Homo sapiens: one gene and its partner. The protein of the gene in region 1 interacts with the protein of each later gene in a pairwise test. Each region holds a gene or a part of one and is shown in the gene's direction. Other genes may lie near its edges.

Region 1 (3,500 bases):
CCGTCCTCTCTTGAGTGACTGATGGAGGGCTGTGACATGGTTGCTCCGGTACCTGCTGGCAGAGGGGCAGGCAGCCCACCTAACCTGGTCCTTACGCCATCAGACCATAGCAGCCACCAAACCCAGCTACATGGTGACATTCAGATTGGTGGCCCTTTTTCCTGTCAGCTACCCGGGCACATCTAGCAGTCTTGAGGATTGGCAGGTCTGGTGGGAAGAAGAATTCATTCTTCTTCTTCTTTTTTTGACACAATGTCTCACTCTGTTGCCCAGGCTGGAATGCAGAGGCAGGATCATGGCTCACTGCAGCCTTGACCTCCCAGGCTCAAGTGATCCTCCCACCTCAGTCTCCCTAGTAGCTACTAGAATGTGTGTATTTTTGACAGAGATGGGGTTTCTGAGCCGTGGGCTTCTTTCTCCTTCCGGCAGTGTTGTTCCCAGTGCTGGGACACCAGTGTGGGAGCTTTGTGGTCAGCTTGCGGGGAGGGTGTTATGTGCAATATTTAGAACTAAGGTCCTCCCCAGCCTGTTACCCCAAAGGGCTCCCTGATTGGTGAAGTGACTGCTGCCTTTCTTCATTGTGGCTGAAACCCTTGTGCGTGAACAGTAAAGTGAGGGGTCAGTCTGCGAGCGGATTCAAGAATCTGAAGAGGGAAGCCAGGTGCAGTGGCGTGCGCCTGTAATCTCAGCTACTTGGGAGGCTGAGCAGGGAGGATGGCTTGAGCCCAGGAGTTTGGGGCCAGCCTGGGCCACATAGTAAGACCCCATCTCAAAAAAACAAGAATCTGAAGAGAAGTTTAAGCAGGCTTCTCTCTAGGCACAGCCAAAGGATTCTGCTAAGGGTGAGAAGACCCAATCACGGATCTAAGAAGAACCCCGTTGCATCTGTTAGAAGTATTCTTGAGCTGGCTGGGCGGGGTGGGCCTACTGCTTCTGGAAAGTTCCTTCTCTTTCAGGACAGGTTCAGAATATAGTAGTGCAGAATATAGTTCTGGGGCCAGTAACAAATTTGACCAATGAAAAATCTTGGCTGGGTGCAGTGGTTTCTGCCTGTAATCCCAACACCTTGGGAGGCTGAGGCAGGTGGATTGCTTGCAGCCAGGTGTTTGAGACCAGCCTGGGCAACGTGGCAAAACTCCATATCTACAGAAAATACAAAAGTTAGCCAGGTGTGGCGGTATGTGCCTGCAGTCCCAGCTACCCTGGAGGCTGAGATGGGAGGATCACCTGAGCTGTACTCAAGTCTGGCGACAGTGAGACCCTTTCTAAAAAAAAAGAAGAAAAAATTCTCCAGCTTGTCTTGTGTTTAGTTTCCCTTCTCTTTCCTCATAGTTGCTTCCCAAAGGCCTCGTGCTCCTTCTCAGGGCATTTTCCCGTTTCCCTCTGACCACTTCTCTTGAAGCCCCTAGAGTGTTCCTGGGTCTTAAGCTTTGAGTTGTGTTTGAGGACTGTACCCGAGTTCCATATGTGGACTCTTCCGTGTTGACCCTGTAGCTCCAGGAGTCAGGCAGACGGTCTTGGACCTACGATTTGTCAACTTTGGCGACAGGCATTTGCTAGAAGCCCCCTGCTCTCCTCGTGTGGAGGCAGCACGTGCGAGGCGGTGAGCTGCAGCTCCCAGTCAGCTGCGCGTTTTCCACCGAGGGTATTTTCCCTTTACCATGGGTTTATCAGGATGTAGCAGCTGCTGCTGCTGGGATTCCTACCACCCACTGTTGCTGTGTGTCCTCAGCACGGCCACTGCCATTCTCACTCTGCCTCCTTTAGGTTAGGCCTTGGCAGTGTGGGAAACACATCAGCCGAGAGTTGGTGCCCAGCATGCACTCGAGGCCACCCTCATCCAGGCCCCGTCTGCCTTTCCGAGCTCACCTTCCACAGTCTTCCCCCGCTCCACTCTCCGCCCTCTGATGGCCCATGCTGTCCCACGGCTGCTCCCTCTGTCTGCCCCACCCCCTCCAGCACTCCCTGTGCTTGGCTGCCCAGCTCGGGCTGCCTCCTCCAGGCGGCTGCCCCTATCTGCTGTTGGGAGGAGATTCCTCTGCCCTTTGAGTGTCCTCGACACTTTGTGGGTCCATGAGAATCCTTATTTTTCTGCTGTGTATTTTCTTTCCCTTTGTTCTTTGTCCTCCTGGACTAGAGCTCTCTGAGGTCTTGGCAAGCCTCACAGCAACTAGAACAGCCCCTAAGCGTGGTGTGCCTTGGTGACAGCACTGTGCCTTGGGAAGCTTATGGCAGAATGGCCACCCGTGGAGCACGGAGCCGCCCAACTGTCATCGCTGTCCTGAAGGGTGAGGTGGGCCTGGGCTCTGCTGCCAGGACCCAGCTGAGGCTTTCTAGTTCTCTCTCCTTCTACCGTGGCAACCGTCTCCTCATCCCCCTGCCATCTCCACCGCCGCCAGCAGTCTTCAGAAGCATCGGTCTTCCCGGGCCACTCTCTGTTGGGCCTCAGGGTGGTTGACTCATTGCTCTGTAGGATGCAGTCGAAACTGCTAGAGTTGACTGTGAGACCAGGAACTGGCAGCCGCGAGGGCTGTCTGTCCTTCCCTCCAGGAGCAGTGCCGTCGCCCTCCACCTACTGCGCTTATTCTTGCCCATCCATCGGTTTCAGCTTACGCGTCCCCTCCTCAGGGATGCCTTCCCTGGTCCCCGCACCCGACTCCACTTCCTCCCTCCGTGCTCTGCTGGCACTGGCGCTTCTCCTCTGCAGCCCTCCCTGCAGGTGTGGTTGTGTCTGTAGAATTGTTTTCTGCCTGGCTGGCTGCCTGGTTCACAGCCCGGTGCCTGGCACAGAGTCCCCACTCCTTGTTAACGGAGGACTGGACCCCACCGTGAGTTGTTGCTGTGCTCTGAGCCAGAGGAAGGGAGGCGTGGAAGCTTCCCTGGCCCTCCAGGGTCTGCTGGTGCTCTCGGCTTTGCGGTCGTTTCTCTTTATTGATCAGGGTTTTCTGTGCCCTGAAGCCACTGAGTCAGGTGTCATATAGAGCATATCAAGAACTTGAAGCCAGGCCAGGCACATGGGCTCACACCCGTAATCCCAGCACTTTGGGAGGCCAAGGTGGGAGAATCTCTTGAGGTCAGGACTTCAAGACCAACCTTTGTAACATAGTGAGACCCCATCTCTACAAAAAATAATTAGCCAGGCATGGTGGCACACAACTGTAGTCCTAGCTGCTCCGGAGGGTGAGGTGGGAGGGTCTCTTGAGCTCGGGAGTTGGAGGCTGCATTGAGCTATGATCACACCACTGCACTCCAGAAAAAATAAAAATGTAAAAGAACTTGAAGCCAGGACTTGGGGCGGGTGCTCTGAGTGCAAAAGACAGAAGATGCTGTTATCCAAGGGGTAGAAGCAGATTTGGGGACCCTGGACTTCTCTCTGCACTCAGCAGGATGTGTGACTTGTGAAGCCTGGTGTGAGACTGGCCCTCTGCCCTGGGGGCCTTTCTGCCAGGTCCCTGGCCCGCTGACTCACGCCCCCTTCCTTACCCAGGAGAGTCGCGGTT
Region 2 (3,500 bases), on another chromosome or scaffold:
AAACCAGGACCATTAATCTGAGACTCTGACCATATAACATGTTACAGTGACGGGAAGAACGTGAAGAACCTGTATTAACTTGAGTTGCTAGTGATTTGTTTAGCTTTTTATCACTATGTCAAGTGGCTTACCTGGGTCTAGCTAGATGGTTTGATTTTTTTTTTTTTTTTTTTTTGAGATGGAGTTTCACTCTGTCACCCAGGCTGGAGTGCAGTGGCATGATCTCAGCTCACTGCAACCTCCACCTCTCGGGTACAAGTGATTCTGGTGCCTGAGCCTCCCGAGTAGCTGGGACTACAGGCGCACACCACCACACCCGGCTAATTGTTTTATATTTTTTAGTAGAGACGGGGTTTCACCATGTTGGCCAGGCTGGTCTCAAACTCCTGACCTCAAGTCATCTGCCCCTCCCCCCCCCAACCCCCTCAGCCTCCCAAAGTGCTGGGATTACAGGCAAGAGCCACCATGCCCAGCCGGTTTGATTTCTTTAAGTAGTTGTATTTCTATTTATTATTCTTATAGGAAAATACAGCCTTAGATTTGAAAAAAATGTCTGTGGCTTCTCTGGTAAATCTAATTCTGACGGTTAAAGTATTTCTACTTAGAAAGCGATATATTATAAACAGTATTCTTCACTCATCCAGGAGTTTATATGTCAGATGCTCTTCCTGGTTTCATGTTTACAGATAGACCCAGCCCCATTTCTCTATCACAAGCCAGCTTAGCAGCCTGTGGTGGCAGTATTTCAAGGAGATCGCTGGCCTGGAGCTGTGGAGCCAGAGCTTCTGGAAGAGGGAATGTTCTTAGAACTCCATGGATTTAAAAAGAAGATTTGGCCGGGCATGGTGCCTCAGGCCTGCAATCCCAGTACTTTGGGAGGCCAAGGTGGGTGGATCACTGGAGGTCATGAGTTCGAGACCATCCTGGCCAACATGGCAAAACCCCGTCTCTACAAAAAATACAAAAATTAGCCAGGAGTGTTGGCGTCTACCTGTAATCCCAGCTACTTGGGAGGCTGAGGCTCGAGAATTGCCTGAACCCAGGAGGCAGAGATTGTTCGAGACCCTGCACTCCAGCATGGGTGACAGACTGAGACTATGTCTCAGAAAAGAAAAAGAAAAACAGGAAAGATTGTCCTCATGCATAACATCAGTGTTATGTGTCCACTTTCTGAATTGCTTGACACTGAGGGAATTTATAAGAAAGCAAGTATTATAGTTCCCACCTTCCAGATGCTCAGTCAAGTGACAAGTTGTAAACATTTCAGATAAGATGATGTGCACAATGATGGTCGGGCATGGTGGCTCATGCCTGTAACCCCAGCACTTTGGGAGGCCGGGGCAGGCAGATTGCTTAACGCCAGGAATTTGAGAACAGCCTGGCCAACATGGTGAAACCCTGTCTCTACTAAAAATACAAAAATTAGTCGGGTGTGGTGGTGCACACCTATAATCCCAGCTACTCAGGAAGCTGAGGCAGTAGAATTGGTTGAACCTGGGATGCGGAGGTTGCAGTGAGCTGAGATCGCGCCACTGCACTCCAGTCTGGGTGACAGAGCGAGACTCTGTCTCAAAAAATAAATAAAGATTATGTGCAGAATGAATGATGGCAGATAATTGTTAATTCTAGGCTGGGCACAGTGGCTCATGCCTGTAATCCCAGCACTTTGGGAGGCCAAGACAGGAGGATTGCTTGAGCCCAGGAGCCGGAGACCAGCCTGGACAACATAGCAAGACCTTGTCTCTACTTAAAAAAATAAATTTTTTTTTTCAATAGCCAGGCATGGTGGCACACAAGTGTAGTCCCAGGTATGCAGAAGGCTAAGGCAGGAGGATTGCTTGAGCCCAGGAGGTCAAAACTGCAGTGAGCCATGATCACAATATTGCACTCCAGTCTGGGTGACAGAGCTAGACCCTGTCTTAAAAAGAAAAAGAATTCTAGAAGAGGGAGAGCTCAGTGGAGAGCCATGAGAACCAAGAAGACTGACTGAAGAGATGGGATTTGTTTTTCTGTTTGTTTTTTTTTGTTGTTGTTTTTTTTTTTTTGAAACGGAGTCTCGCTCTGTCGCCCAGGCTGGAGTGCAGTGGCGCGATCTTGGCTCACTACAAGCTCCACCTCCCGGGTTCATGCCATTCTCCTGCCTCAGCCTCCCGAGTAGCTGGGACTACAGGCGCACACCACCATGCCCAGCTAATTTTTGTTGTATTTTTCAGTAGAGGCAGGGTTTCACCATGTTAGCCAAGATGGTCTTGATCTCCTGACCTCGTGATCTGCCCGCCTCGGCCTCCCAAAGTGCTGGGATTACAGGCGTGAGCCATCGCACTCAGCCAGAGATGGGATTTGAATCCAGCTCTGGAAGATACATAGAATCTGGATGGATGGGGACTATAGGGGCATTTCAGACAGTGGGGATACCATGAACAATTGGCATTAAGCTGGGTGTTATGGAAAGGAAGAGGCTCCCTGCCTGAGGTAACTTGTGCTTAGGAATAACAGAGGCAATATGGTTGGCCCAAACTTCATTAGCTAAATGAATAATTACACAAGTCTGAAACAAAAATGGGAACTCAGTCTCATAAGGAGCCTGAAAGCCATTGTTTCCTTATGTTTTTTGTTGTTGTTGTTGTTGTTGTTGTTCTTGTTTGGTTTCTTGATTTTTTTTTGAGAAAGGGTTGGAGTGCAGTATCACGGACATGGCTTACTGCATCCTTGACTTCCCAGGCTCAGGTAATCCTCCCACCTCAGCAGTCCGAGTAGCTGGGACCACAGTTGTGTGCCACCATGCCCTGCTAAATTTTTTACTTTTTTTTTTTTTTTTTTTTTTTTTTTTTGTAGAGACAAGTTCTCGCCATGTTTCCCAGGCTGGTCGCAAACTCCTGGGCTCAAGTGATCCTCCCACCTCGGCCTCCCGAAGTACTGGCATTATGGGCATGAGCCACAGCGCCGAGCCCCGATTTTTTTTTTAATGCTAAAAGACTAGATTAATAAACTGTGATCCTTGTTTATAACAAGTGCTAGAAATAGGACACAGAAAATTGGAGTTGAGTTAATTTCAGAGCTTAACCAGGCAAACAGGTGAAGCCAGTGGTGATGTGCTTGCTCAAGACAAAAATAGCCTGGATGGTGGTGGTGATGATATAATTTCTAACTGACGAAGGTTCTTTGGAGGGTTGTAAACAAGTGGGATACAAAGCAACTGCTAAATGCAATATTTTTAACTTTTTAAACTCCTTTGCTAGAGTTCTACATTTTAAACTATAAAAATGAAGTCACTGTGGTACTAATGTGTTATCTTTTTGTGGGTAGGCAGTTAACTTAGAGAAAGGAAATAAAGGGTAAAGATGTACAGTACTTCTCTAAAGAAGGAACACTTCCTTAGTGATCAGTGCTGGGGCAGATTTTATTTTGTGTTTTTCTATGAAGGTAAGATCTCCAGATTGGCTGGTGGCAGCAGATTACTTTGGGGAAAGAGCTCTGGATTGGTTACCAGCCTAATGTGC

The links. The genes of interacting proteins can lie anywhere in the genome.
Region 2: the proteins of NTMT1 (region 1) and GLYR1 interact in binary tests that used the Homo sapiens proteins (3 or more experiments, as listed by UniProt).

What each region holds. Positions count from the first base shown.
Region 1 is NC_000009.12:129,629,163-129,632,662, forward strand, and holds part of NTMT1 (N-terminal Xaa-Pro-Lys N-methyltransferase 1), read left to right. Parts: intron 1-3,487; 5' UTR 3,488-3,500. UniProt on the Homo sapiens protein: Distributive alpha-N-methyltransferase that methylates the N-terminus of target proteins containing the N-terminal motif [Ala/Gly/Pro/Ser]-Pro-Lys when the initiator Met is cleaved.
Region 2 is NC_000016.10:4,840,789-4,844,288, reverse strand, and holds part of GLYR1 (cytokine-like nuclear factor N-PAC), read left to right. Parts: intron 1-686; exon of another isoform or gene 687-885; intron 886-2,898; exon of another isoform or gene 2,899-3,500. UniProt on the Homo sapiens protein: Cytokine-like nuclear factor with chromatin gene reader activity involved in chromatin modification and regulation of gene expression. Acts as a nucleosome-destabilizing factor that is recruited to genes during transcriptional activation.